2 separate regions of the Homo sapiens genome follow, and region 1 is linked to region 2. The links come from fine-mapping of genetic effects on gene expression. A gene starts in region 2. The other region holds a variant in brackets. All regions are shown on one strand. Distances are between the middles of the regions. Region 1 overlaps SPNS2 (SPNS lysolipid transporter 2, sphingosine-1-phosphate). Region 2 holds the start of SPNS2 (SPNS lysolipid transporter 2, sphingosine-1-phosphate).

Region 1 (5,358 bases), 37 kb before region 2:
GGACCCTGGCTCCAGGGCCATGTCCAGGGCTCTGGTGTTTGCCTGGGTTGGTGCAGGTTGATGTGCTGGCTGCAGGCAGGTGTGACCATCTCTCGTGCCTGCCACCTCTTTGCCCCCAGGCTTTTTTGCTGTGAGGGAGCCACCAGGGGGTGATTTAAATAGGTTTATTTCTTCATTTACAAGAGGAATATATTTGGCTTCTCTCTTAAGACTCTGAGATTCACAATCAGCAGCTCTAAAAAATAAAGGAGCAGTTTGGCTTCCGGAAGGAAGAGGAGGCAACACTCGGACCTGGTTCTTGTACAACAAGAAAACATCGCTGGGGCCCCGCTGAGGCTGGAGTGGGGGTGGAGGCTGGTCTTTGGAGGATGCCACCCCCACCCCATCCTCTTGTCAGGCCCTCGGGGTACCCCAGAGCTTGGTGGGTGAGTATTCCACCTGCTTACACACCACTGAAGCCACAGCCAGCCAGTAACTAAGGGGCAAGAAGAGCATTGTCCAAGCTGGCTCTTGGGGGGTCCCCCATTGGCCACAAGGCCTCACCCCCCACCCCACCCCCGCACCAGAACCACCTTGATTGCAGCAGAAGTGCAGGGAGTGGGTGACGCAGGGGGCTAAGCTCCCCCAAAGCGGGTTGGGGCTGGTGTGAAGTTGGCAGCTGCATCCTGGTGTGTGCATGGATGGGAGGTGGGTGATCGAAGGCCTGGCCCCCCCCTGGGGTCACTTGGTGGAATGCCAGCAGCCAGTGTTTGGGTAGGGGCCGCCTCTCCCGGGGCCTCAGCCTCAGCTCTGGGGCAGGAAGCTTTGTGGATAGCTGCTTCCTCCAGCAGCCGGAGCCCTGGCTACTGCCCCATGGATTCTGGGAATGGTCTCCTGGGCCCTGCCCCTGGAAAAGGCTCAGCTCAGCCTCGGGGAAGGAGTGGGGTCCTGGCTTGGGGGGTGGTGGCAGGGAGAGAAGCCCTGCAGAGTTGGGCTGGTGTGCACCTGCCAGAGACCTTGAGCCTGGGGGCACAGGTGGTGTACAGCTGCAGCCAGGGCCTTCACCCCTGGTGATGCCAGCTTGTCAGAACAGTCCCCATCTGGGACCTCCAGGCTGGGAGCCAACCCGAGACAGTGAGACAGTGTCCTCCAGGGAGTACCCAGAGACTTGGGCGCCCAGCTTCATTTGCCAGGTTGCGTCCAATATCCCCAAGGTCCGAGGCCCAGCTGAGCAGTGGTCCCTGCATACCAGGCCCTCGCGTGAGCCTCAAAGCCGGGACTGCCGCCCTGAGGCCTGGGCCACCTGCTCTCCGTATGGTCCAGGGTCTGTTGAGTCTTCAAAGCTGCAGATCGTGCTTTGCCCAGCAAGTTGTGTGGGAAAGTCCAGCCCCCTGGCCCTTCGTTCCAGGGAGGGCAGGGACTTGCCCAAGATCACATAAGCTGGTGGCAGGCCAGGCTCTCCCCGGACACCCACTTGGGGCTGTCTTCTTCCTTGGCCCCAGGGGCCCTGCGGCCCAAACCTAGGGCTGGGAACCTGTCCAACCGTGTGGCTCCAACACACACATCCTTCCAGGGTAACTGAGGACACAGCCTCTTCTTGATGCCAGGGCCACTCAGCAGGCCTGGGCCAGAGAGGGTGGGTGCCTAGCCGTGGATCACACAGAAAGCTTTGGGGCAGCCCAGCCGGTCCCGGACGCTGTAGGACACCTCCCAGACGAGGTGGGAGTGTGGGTTCTTCATTGTCCCAATGGCACCTGGGGAAAGGGGTGTCAGGTCAGCAGTGGGGCTTAGTGGGGCCTGTGCCAAGGCTGCCCTCCCTCCTTCCCTTTTCTTGCTGTTTGGAGACGCAAGCCTTCTCCTGGACCTGCAGCTGTGACCCTGGGTCTCGTGCTGCTGGGAAGCTATAACTCCCAGAGGGAAGGGCCAAGGAGTCAGGCCCTGGTACATCCAGGAGGATTTGGGAGAACAGAAGTCCGGACAGAGTGAGGAGTTCCTGGCCAGTCCTGGCCCTGATCTATGCGAGGCCCCACCCAGCCCTTGAAAGGAAGGAAAGGGGAGCTAATTTACTGGAAGGAGCAGCCTGCTGTCCCACCCATGGCTCCATCAGTAAATTCTGGCAACATCTTCAGAGACAAAGCCCAGAGTTGGTGGGATGTGCTGGGGTAGGAGGTGACTCTGGAGGAAAAGTGCTCCCTGTTGCCTAACCCTGGCCTTCCCCTTTCCTTAGGGAGCCCCCACGTGCCTCCCGGCCTGCACTCACCACCTCAGACTTTCACAGATGCGGGCGGCATCGCCAGCTGGTTCACCCTGGGGGAGAGACGGGCGGGGGTCAGGGTGGTGCATCAGCGGGGGCCGGGCCCGGGCACTGCTCTGGCACATCGTGTCGTGGGGGCCAGCTGACCGGAGGTGCTGGGCAGGGACCTCGTCAGCCCCAGGGGGAGATGGGAGAGCCCAGGGGTGGGGAGAGGAGAGAGAGAGGAGTAAAGAGGAAAGGAGAAAGAAGTCAGAAAGTAAGAGGAAGGGGAGGGGCCCCAGCTTTGAAAACCACTAAGTCCAGAGACAAACCCAAGTCTGGATCCACCAGACACCCCCGTGGCCTCCCACAGCTCCAGGCTGACCCTGGCACTGGGCCTCAGGGCTGGACCCCAGCAACCAGTGGGTGCACTGAGTGCATGGGAGGTCTGTACCCTCCCCGCCCCACCCCAGGGCAGGGCTCACGGTGGCTATCACGGTCCCTGCTTCCCGGCGGTGCAGCAGGGCCTCCCCTCCCCCCC[A/CCA]CTCACTGCTGCTCAGCCCTGGCGCGGTCGCTGACGAAGAAGAGCGCAGTGGCGAGGAAGAACATGCCGCCCAGGACCACGACGAAAGGGCAGAGCATGAGCGCGTAGCCCAGGCTCAGGAACTCCCAGAGCGGGGAGTCCTTAGTGCTCTGGCGGATCAGGTCTGAGATCTGCGAGGATTTGGGGGTGGATGTCAGGGCAGAGCCCTCCTGCAGTCCCCCAGCCTGCCCTGGCCAGCCCCACCCCGGGGCTACTCACAAAGCCAATGAGGTAGGGGCTCCCGGCGTCCCCCAGCAGGTGGGAGGTGAAGCTCTGCAAGGCCACGGCAGTGGCGCGCCGCGTGGGGATGACCACGTACTGCGGAACAGGCGGGCAGGTCAGCGGCCAGAGGAGAAAGGCTCACGCGCTTGGCCCTGGCCCCGGGCCGTGGCACTTCTGAAGCCCCCACACCCTCAGACTCACTCCTGCCCTACGTCTTGACACCTCTCTCCCCTGGGCCCTGCCCTCCTCCCCACAGTCCCCTCTACTGCCCACCCCACCAGCCTGGCTGCTTCTCTCCTGCCAGTCACCCTTCTCCTCCCTGAGCCCCTCCCACCCACACACAGCTGCAGTCACCCTCACCCCAGGGGCTTCCACACCTCCAACCCAGACCACTGCGACCTGCCCCATACTGAAAGCGTCATTGGCCTCAAACCTGCTGTGCCCCCAGCACACCCCTCTGAAATTGGAATCTTCACCTCCCTCCCAGCTACATGCAGTTAAGGAATGATACTTTGGGGGTTGCCCAGGCGCCAGTCACTAGAGGCCATTAGCCCAGAGCCCTCCGAGCCTCGGAGTACCCGAGCCATCAGGAACGGCCATGCTGCTGCCTCTCCAGCGCGGCTCCTGCTCCATTCCTGAGACCAGGGTGCCTTGGCTTCTGCCCTTGGACCTGGGTCACGGGGACACTGAGGTCTAGAGAGGCACATGTTCCCGAGGGAACCTGAACCCCCGCCACAGCCATTTGTCCTCACCTCCCATCAAGCTAAAGACCCATCTTGGTTCCCCTCCCTGAGGACCAAGCCAGGCCTCGACTGGCCTGGGACAGGAGCTGGTGAGGCAGGCCCCTGCCTGCAAGAGCCTCCGCTCGCACCCGCGGGCACCCTCAGCACCAAATGCCGGCACTGCTGGGCCCCAGACCCCCATCAGACCAAGCAGGCCCCAACCTACAGGAGGTTGGCTTCAAAGCTGGGCAGGCCAGAGTCAGACAGGAGGGGCTGGGGTGGGGGCGGGACAGGCACAGCCAGCTCTGTGGGTGCCCAGGCAGCCCCTGTTCCCCGAGCTCCAGCTGCCTCGCCTCTTTGGAGTGCCAGCCTTAGTGGGCATTGTGTGCAAGCAACCAGCACCCACGGGGCACCCCGTTGCGGGAGAGGTGGGGGGCGGGTGGAAAAGGGCCTGAATCTGATGAAACGAGTGGCCCTGTTTCCAGCAGGAATAAACTGTTACACTTAATAAACCGGGACGCGATTTCCCCGGGACCCTGACCCTGCCGGCAGCTGTCAGGCGCTCCCTGGGGGTGGAGGCAGGAGAGGGGGTCCTGCCCAGCACCAAGAGCACTTAATCTGCACGGACTCCTCCCTTCACTCTGGGCCTGTGCAGTGACCCTGGCGCACCCCTGCCACCGCCTGGCTCCGTGCTGAGGCTCTGAACTGCGCCAGGCCTCCCCACCACCACCGCAGCCCATGGACTCGGGAGGACACAGAGCCACCCCAGGGGGAAGCGGATACGCCCGGAGGCTCAGGGTGGGGTAAGGCAGGCTTCCCGAAGTGCAGGGGCCGCAGTGCCTGGCACACTCATCTCCCGGGCTGTCCCATGCTGGGGCACCCAAACCCGGGCACCCTGAGAATCCACCCGAGTCCTTCCTCTCTGCCCCAGAGCCTGCCCTGACACCTCCCAGACACTCTCTCCTGTCCCCTCCTGACCCTGGCCAGGCTGACCCTTGGGCACAGGACCAAGTGTCACACTCACCCCTGCCACGCCCAGAGGGCCATGAACTCCTAGCTCCACTCCTGGCTCCTCCCAGGGTGCTCCCATCCCCACCCAGGGACACAAGCCCCTGCTGGCCGCTCAAGACAGCCCTTTGTCCCCAGCTGGCTGGGCTAGAGCCCATTGTTGGCCCTGTGAAGACAGCCTCTGTCCGCCCAGCCCCAGCCGCAGGCACGCCTGGGAGCCAGGCTGAGTAGAGAGGGCAGAGCCTATGGATGCTCAGACCCAGCGGGGGGAGGAGGGCGGGCAGGCAGCGCCACCTCAGTGCCAGCCTGGCACCGCCAGCCTCCCAGCCACTAACCTGAGCCTCGAGATGCCCCCTCCCCCTCAGTCTCCACATGGTGCTCTGTCTGCCTGCCCAACCCTGTTTTCCAGCCCTGGCCAGAGGCAGACCCCAAACTCTCTGATCCCCTCCCTGCCTCTGGGTTCACGTTCCTGGCAGGCCTGCCTTCCTACCAGCTCTCCCGCCCCTTCACCCGCCCTCCCCAGGCACCCCTGTGAGGTCAAGAGGCCTGGGTCAGCAGCACAAGGTGACCTCGGCCTGCCTGGCTCACCATGAGGATGTCTGCAGTGATGGCCC
Region 2 (5,358 bases):
ACTCCCCTGGCCCTAGCACATCAAGCCATAGTAGTTACCATAGAGATAATAAATATTCCTAAAAACTGAACTTGGGGAAGTGGAGATGGGGAAATCTACCATAGAGAGAGGGGCAACCAGGCTTATCCGGAGAGGAAACCTGTGTCTGTTGTGTGTTGGGGGTGGGGTGGTGTGTGAGCTCCCACTCCAGGCCAGGAGAGGGAGGGAGGCACAGCCCAGGCAAGTGTTTGCACAGGACTTTCCGGGCCTTCCTCCCTAACTGCCCCACGCCCCTCTTAGCCACCACTCCCCACCTCCCTTTACCAATTCACCACAAATTTCCTATCTCATTCCCCCATGCTGACAATCTGACTCAGAGACCTGAGTAGAAGTGGGAGCAGATAAGTGCCAGCCCTCCCTGATCCCACCCTCTCTGGCTCTGCCCCTGGCAGAGGCAGTTCCCCTAAGAACGTCAAAGGGGGTGGTCTGGGGCCAGAAAAAAAACAAGTTGGAGAGCGCTACAGTGCCAGAAGTAGTACCATTCCTTCTTCAGCTGAGAAAGGGTGGGAAGACCTCCTCCCAGGCAGAGCCTTACTGTTAGAGCTAACACCAGCTTTGCCAGTCACTTTCCTGGCCATCTTGAACGGGGGCTGTACAGGGACATTGGTCCCCCTATCTGTGTACAGAAGCCTTTTGTGAACTGACTACAGGTCCCAGGTATTCTCTGATTTCTCCCCCAAAGGATGGCGCTTATGCTCCCAGGTCCCCGGCAGCATGGTGCATGCGTGACAGCGGCTGGCGTTTTTGGGAGGTGCTCAATATTCCTGCTCTCTAGACCAAAGTAAGTTTCTCTTTGGGATAGCTCGACCCAGAAACTGATGCCACTGGTACCCACTTCCAATTTCCTCCAGCGGAAGGACAGAGAGCCAAGGGGGGTTGAAAGCAGGAATGGGGGGAGGGGGAAGCCTCTGCCCTCCCATCAGAATTCTTCCCTTCCATTTGACACAAAACTCCATTCAACAGACGGGGAGACTGAGGCCCAGAGAAGGCACCAGGTGGCATGTGGTTTATGCCCGGGCTCTCTTCCCTCAATTGCCGCAAAGTTCTCTTTAGAGTCTGTCCAAAAATAAATCCTTCCCTCTCTCCTATCTCCTCTCTCTCTCTGTTGTGTGTGTGTTTGATAGCTCCAGATTTTACTAAGCTATAGTTACGCAGGTTCTGGGCCAGCATGCCAGGCACACAGTACTGCTCTCCTCCTGCAGGGAGCCCCTTCCTATGCCAGTCTGGCCAAAGTCCTTCCCTCTCAAAGCTCCACCATTCCCAACCAGTAGCAGCTCAGTCTAGGGCAAATTCTTACCCCTAGACCCACCCCTAATTGCTGGGGAAGGGAGCCAGCAGAAGGCAATTCCAGAACCACGTGCGTCCCCCAAAGGCCCAATGATCAATCAACTCACAAACGGGCAAACAGACCTAAACACACGCTGAGACTGGCCCAAGGTCACACACCAAGCACATTAGGAGCAAAGCTGGGGCTAGAACCCAGTTGTTCTATCGATCCCAATCCCGTCCCCAAGGCTGATTCCCAGAGATGCTCCCTGAGGATGAGGCTCCACGTCTCTAGCTCCAGAGGCCTGCGCCCTACCCTACACCCCAAGCACCATAGAGCAGGGGGAGGCGTCTCCAGGCCTCTGTACAGGGCCAGCTGCAAACCGCAGCCTGGGTCCCCAGGCGCCGCGGACCCGCCCCGCCCCTCCCTCCGCTCCCCGCAGCCCGGAGCCTTTGTCAGCCACGCGCTCACACACAACCGCGCCGCCACGCGCACACACACCCGGTCTCCCTAGCGCACACCCGCAAGGGGCGCGCGCACTCGCCGCACGCACGCAGGGGGGTGGAGGCGGCGGAGAAAGGAAGGAACTGACGGGCCATGGACGGACAGACGACCTGGGCTGGGGGAAGGGAAGGGAAGGAGGCCCGGGAACCGGCAGCTGGGGTCGGAGGGGGCGCAGAGACAAGGAGACAGAGAGACGCAGAGGAGACTCTTGGAGAGGAGGACAACGGATGGGCCGTCAAGGGCTGGAGAGGACGCGCGGGCTGCTCCAGGGGTGGGGACTCCTCTATCCCTTGGCCCCGGGTGTGTATGAGCGGGGAGCTGGATTGTACCCGTGGTGCACGGAGGCATCCCTTGCCCAGTTGTGCCTGAGCAGAGGGTCCGTAGGGACCTCACGTAGGGCCTGGAGATAGCAGGCCTGAGACCAAAAGCTCTCTGGGGTACCTCCCTCGAGGCGGGTGGTGGGATGGGGTGGGGTCTTGGTCCTCGGGCTGGGTGGGGCACTCGCTCACCTGCCACGGTGTACCTGTCCAGGTAGTTGAGCACGTTGCCCAAGCTGAGGATGGCGGCGGCTGCCCCCCGCCCGCGGCCCAAGCTGGCCGGTTTGGGCTGCTGAGCGCCGGGGCCCTTTGCAGTAGCTGCGCAGCCGGGGGTGCCGGGGGTGCCGGGGGGTCCGGTCGGGGCCCGCCTTACGCTGCCCGACAGCGTCTGCACCTCATCGCCCGCGGCCGAGACTCCAGCGCCGCCCGCGCCCCGCGCCCCGCAGCAACCGCTACCGCCAGCCCCTCGCTGCGCCCCCCGGCGCCGGCGCCGCCGCTCCGCGTCCGCCTCCTCCTCCTCCGCGCCGCCCGCCGCCGCCGAGGCGCATTCCAGGCACATCATGCCGGCCCGGATCGGGGCGGCGGGGGGCGCGGGGGGCGCGGGGCCCAGGCTGGGCCCGCTCAGCGCGTGCGTGCGCCGCGGAGCCGCCACTGCACCATCCTGGTCGGGCCCCGTCGGCTCCTGCGCTCCGGCCCCGGCTGCGGCGCTGCCACCGCTCAGCTCGCTGCGCCTCGTTCGCCGCCGCGGCTCTGACAGCTGCGGCCCGGCCCCGCCCACCAGGCCCGCGCCCAATCAGCTCCGGGCTCGGGCCACAGCCCCGCCCCGCACGTGCTGCCCTGGGGGTGGGGGGCCCGGGGACTGGGGGCCCGGGCGGCAGAGCCCCTCCTGCCAATGGGGGCGCAGTCACGCCGGGGCCGACCGGCCGCGAACGCCCGCGGGGAGCGGGAGAGGGTTTGCTCTGGCTACGGAGCTGGGAGCAGGGTGCTGGTGACGGGGCTCCCAGCACCTACTCAGTACCCTTCACCCAACCCCTGCCTCGGGCGTGGACTCCCGGCGGAGGCTCTGGGAGCCGGGCTGAGGGCTTGAGCCTAGCGTATCTGGGAGAACTGGAGAGAGGAGTCTCAGATGGCTAAAGTCAGGGGCGCCAGTTGGAGAGCCGGTGGCTCCTCCGATACTCACACGCCCGGATTTAACCAGTTCAGGGAGGGCCCAGAACCTAGACCTCCACCAGTCATGGTGGGCTGTGTCTCCCACCTCCCCAGGGCAACCCAGATCCAGCCCCCAACCTACCCCGGGCCCATTCCTGTGTGGGCACCCGGACCCTACCCTTGCCCCACAGAGTGGCCCGCAGCCCCTGGCGGGGAGAGCAAGGGCTGTGATTGGGGCCCAACAGAAACAGGATATTCAGAAGGGGCTTTCCCTCCTGAGGGACCACATCTCCAAGCTTCAGACTTCCAGGTATGTGCTAGAGAGGGTACAAAGCCCCCAGTGGCAGACAGGAGGCTGGGTCCTAGCTCAGCTCTGCCCTGGTGTGTGGCATGATCCTGAACATGACACCCACTCTCTGGGCCTCCATTTCTGTATCTGGGGGCAGATGGCAGGATGGGATTCAGTCTGGAAATCCACGGGTGGTCACCTCCCCTTGGTGGGACGGGGCGGGGGTCTGCCTCCTATGGAGAGTGGTTGGGGTGCTTCTGTGTTCCTGACATCCCATCACGGTTTCACCCCTCCTTAGAGGTGCTGTGGCTCTGTGACGATCTCCCCCTTCCCTCCCCCATTCACCTGTTTGGGGAATTAAAATCGAAATTAAAATCCTGTATAAAGTGCAGAGGACAGAATGTTAGAACTGGACAAACCCTCGGAAACCAGTTAATCATTCCCTGTGTTTCACAGACAAGTCCCAGGGCACGGACGTGACCCATTACGAACAGGCAGTGAAGCTGTGGCAGGGCTGGAGCTGCCCCAGGCTCTGGCATCATCCCCGAGGGCTGGAGCTCACTCCCCGCTAGAGGCTTTTCCGGACCCCACGTCCACAGGCAGGTGCATCTGGTGAAGCTTTCGGCCACAGTGAGTCATGGCATAGCCAACGGGTGACACAGCACGAGGCACCCCCCCCGCCCCCCTCCACTGTCTCTTGTGAGCAGAGTTAATCCCCAAGCTGGTGTTTCTTGGCGCCTTCGAGGTGTATTTTAAATTCTGCAAAGTGACTAAAAATATGCTTCAGCGTGCTGGGTATGAATGACTGTGACGGGAGGGTTAGGAAAACAGATTTCATTCTCAAAGTTGCCTGCTGCCTCTTTCCAGCTCGCTGAGCTCAGGCCTGCAAAGGCGGATGGGGGGAGTTCCCCATGGTGGCCTGGCATGACGGGTGATTAACAAACAAGGACAGAGAGCTAGGAGCTCCGTGGGGCTAGAACCCGGCCCCAGCAATGATCTCGTAAGTGTGTGATGGTGCCAGCAGGTGGACAGAGTCCAGCTGTGGGAGGCTGCCCAGCTGTGGAACTGTGTCTAGTGGTGAAGGAGGCACAACCACAACTCTAGACCCAAGCCCAGGGTCCCCTTCCCGTGCCCCAAAACTCCTCATCCCTTTGGCCACAGTCCTGTCCAGGTGGACACTTTCGGCCTTGACAGAAAGGGGAGCATTCTCTTTCTGCTGCCTTCCCTTTTCACCACTGGGAAGGTCCCAGAGCAGGGGAAGAGGGTGGCATGAGCCTTTCAAACCTGGGGGACCTCTGAGCTGCCACCAAGCAAGCCAGCCCTTCCCACTGTGTTTCACTGGGGTTTCAACTCAAAGGCAGCCTCTAGAATAAGTCCTTGTGTGGGATAAGGGGCCACCAAGGGCAGAGGGACAGGGAGGACAAGAAGCCCTTTCTGGTTGTGCAGCCCAGGACAAATCCCTACAGCCTTCTGAGAAGCTCTGGCAGTAACCTGGGGCTGTCAGACAGAGGACTGGTAGGGTTCTTTCCTCCATCTCGCCAATGAAGAAACTGAGGCCCAGGGAAAAGAAGTAATTTGCCCAAGGTCGAACACCTGGTAAATGACAGTGCATGGACTAAACCCAGGTGTGTTTACCCTCTAATCCAGCACTTCCTCCACTGCACGCTGCCCTCAGACTGGGCGGGATTCTGTTTCTTCATCAGTATAACAGGAGGCTGAACTCCGTGGCTAAAGGACCTTCTGATATTCATTCATTAGGTCTAGATCACAGCTTCAAAACAAATGGGGGCCGG

The links.
Region 1: its variant is fine-mapped to the expression of SPNS2 in cerebral cortex (GTEx, PIP above 0.99).

The regions. Positions count from the first base shown.
Region 1 is chr17:4,533,828-4,539,185 of GRCh38, reverse strand. SPNS2 (SPNS lysolipid transporter 2, sphingosine-1-phosphate) reads right to left here. Exons shown (of 13, transcript NM_001124758.3): 9 at 5,333-5,358; 10 at 3,012-3,110; 11 at 2,760-2,923; 12 at 2,240-2,286; 13 at 151-1,733. The coding sequence ends at 2,244. It overlaps MYBBP1A (MYB binding protein 1a), which reads left to right. Exons shown (of 26, transcript NM_014520.4): 26 at 1-282. Among named protein-coding and RNA genes, the nearest start is that of MYBBP1A, 19 kb to the left of the region's middle. The variant A/CCA (reference allele first, on the strand shown) is at 2,754.
Region 2 is chr17:4,496,379-4,501,736 of GRCh38, reverse strand. It overlaps SPNS2 (SPNS lysolipid transporter 2, sphingosine-1-phosphate), which reads right to left and starts at 2,856. Exons shown (of 13, transcript NM_001124758.3): 1 at 2,320-2,856. The coding sequence starts at 2,689. It overlaps SPNS2-AS1 (SPNS2 antisense RNA 1), which reads left to right and starts at 3,002. Exons shown (of 3, transcript XR_001752763.2): 1 at 3,002-3,586; 2 at 4,022-4,195. RefSeq lists enhancers at 1,422-2,056, 2,057-2,692 and silencers at 2,734-2,783, 2,844-2,993, 3,004-3,063.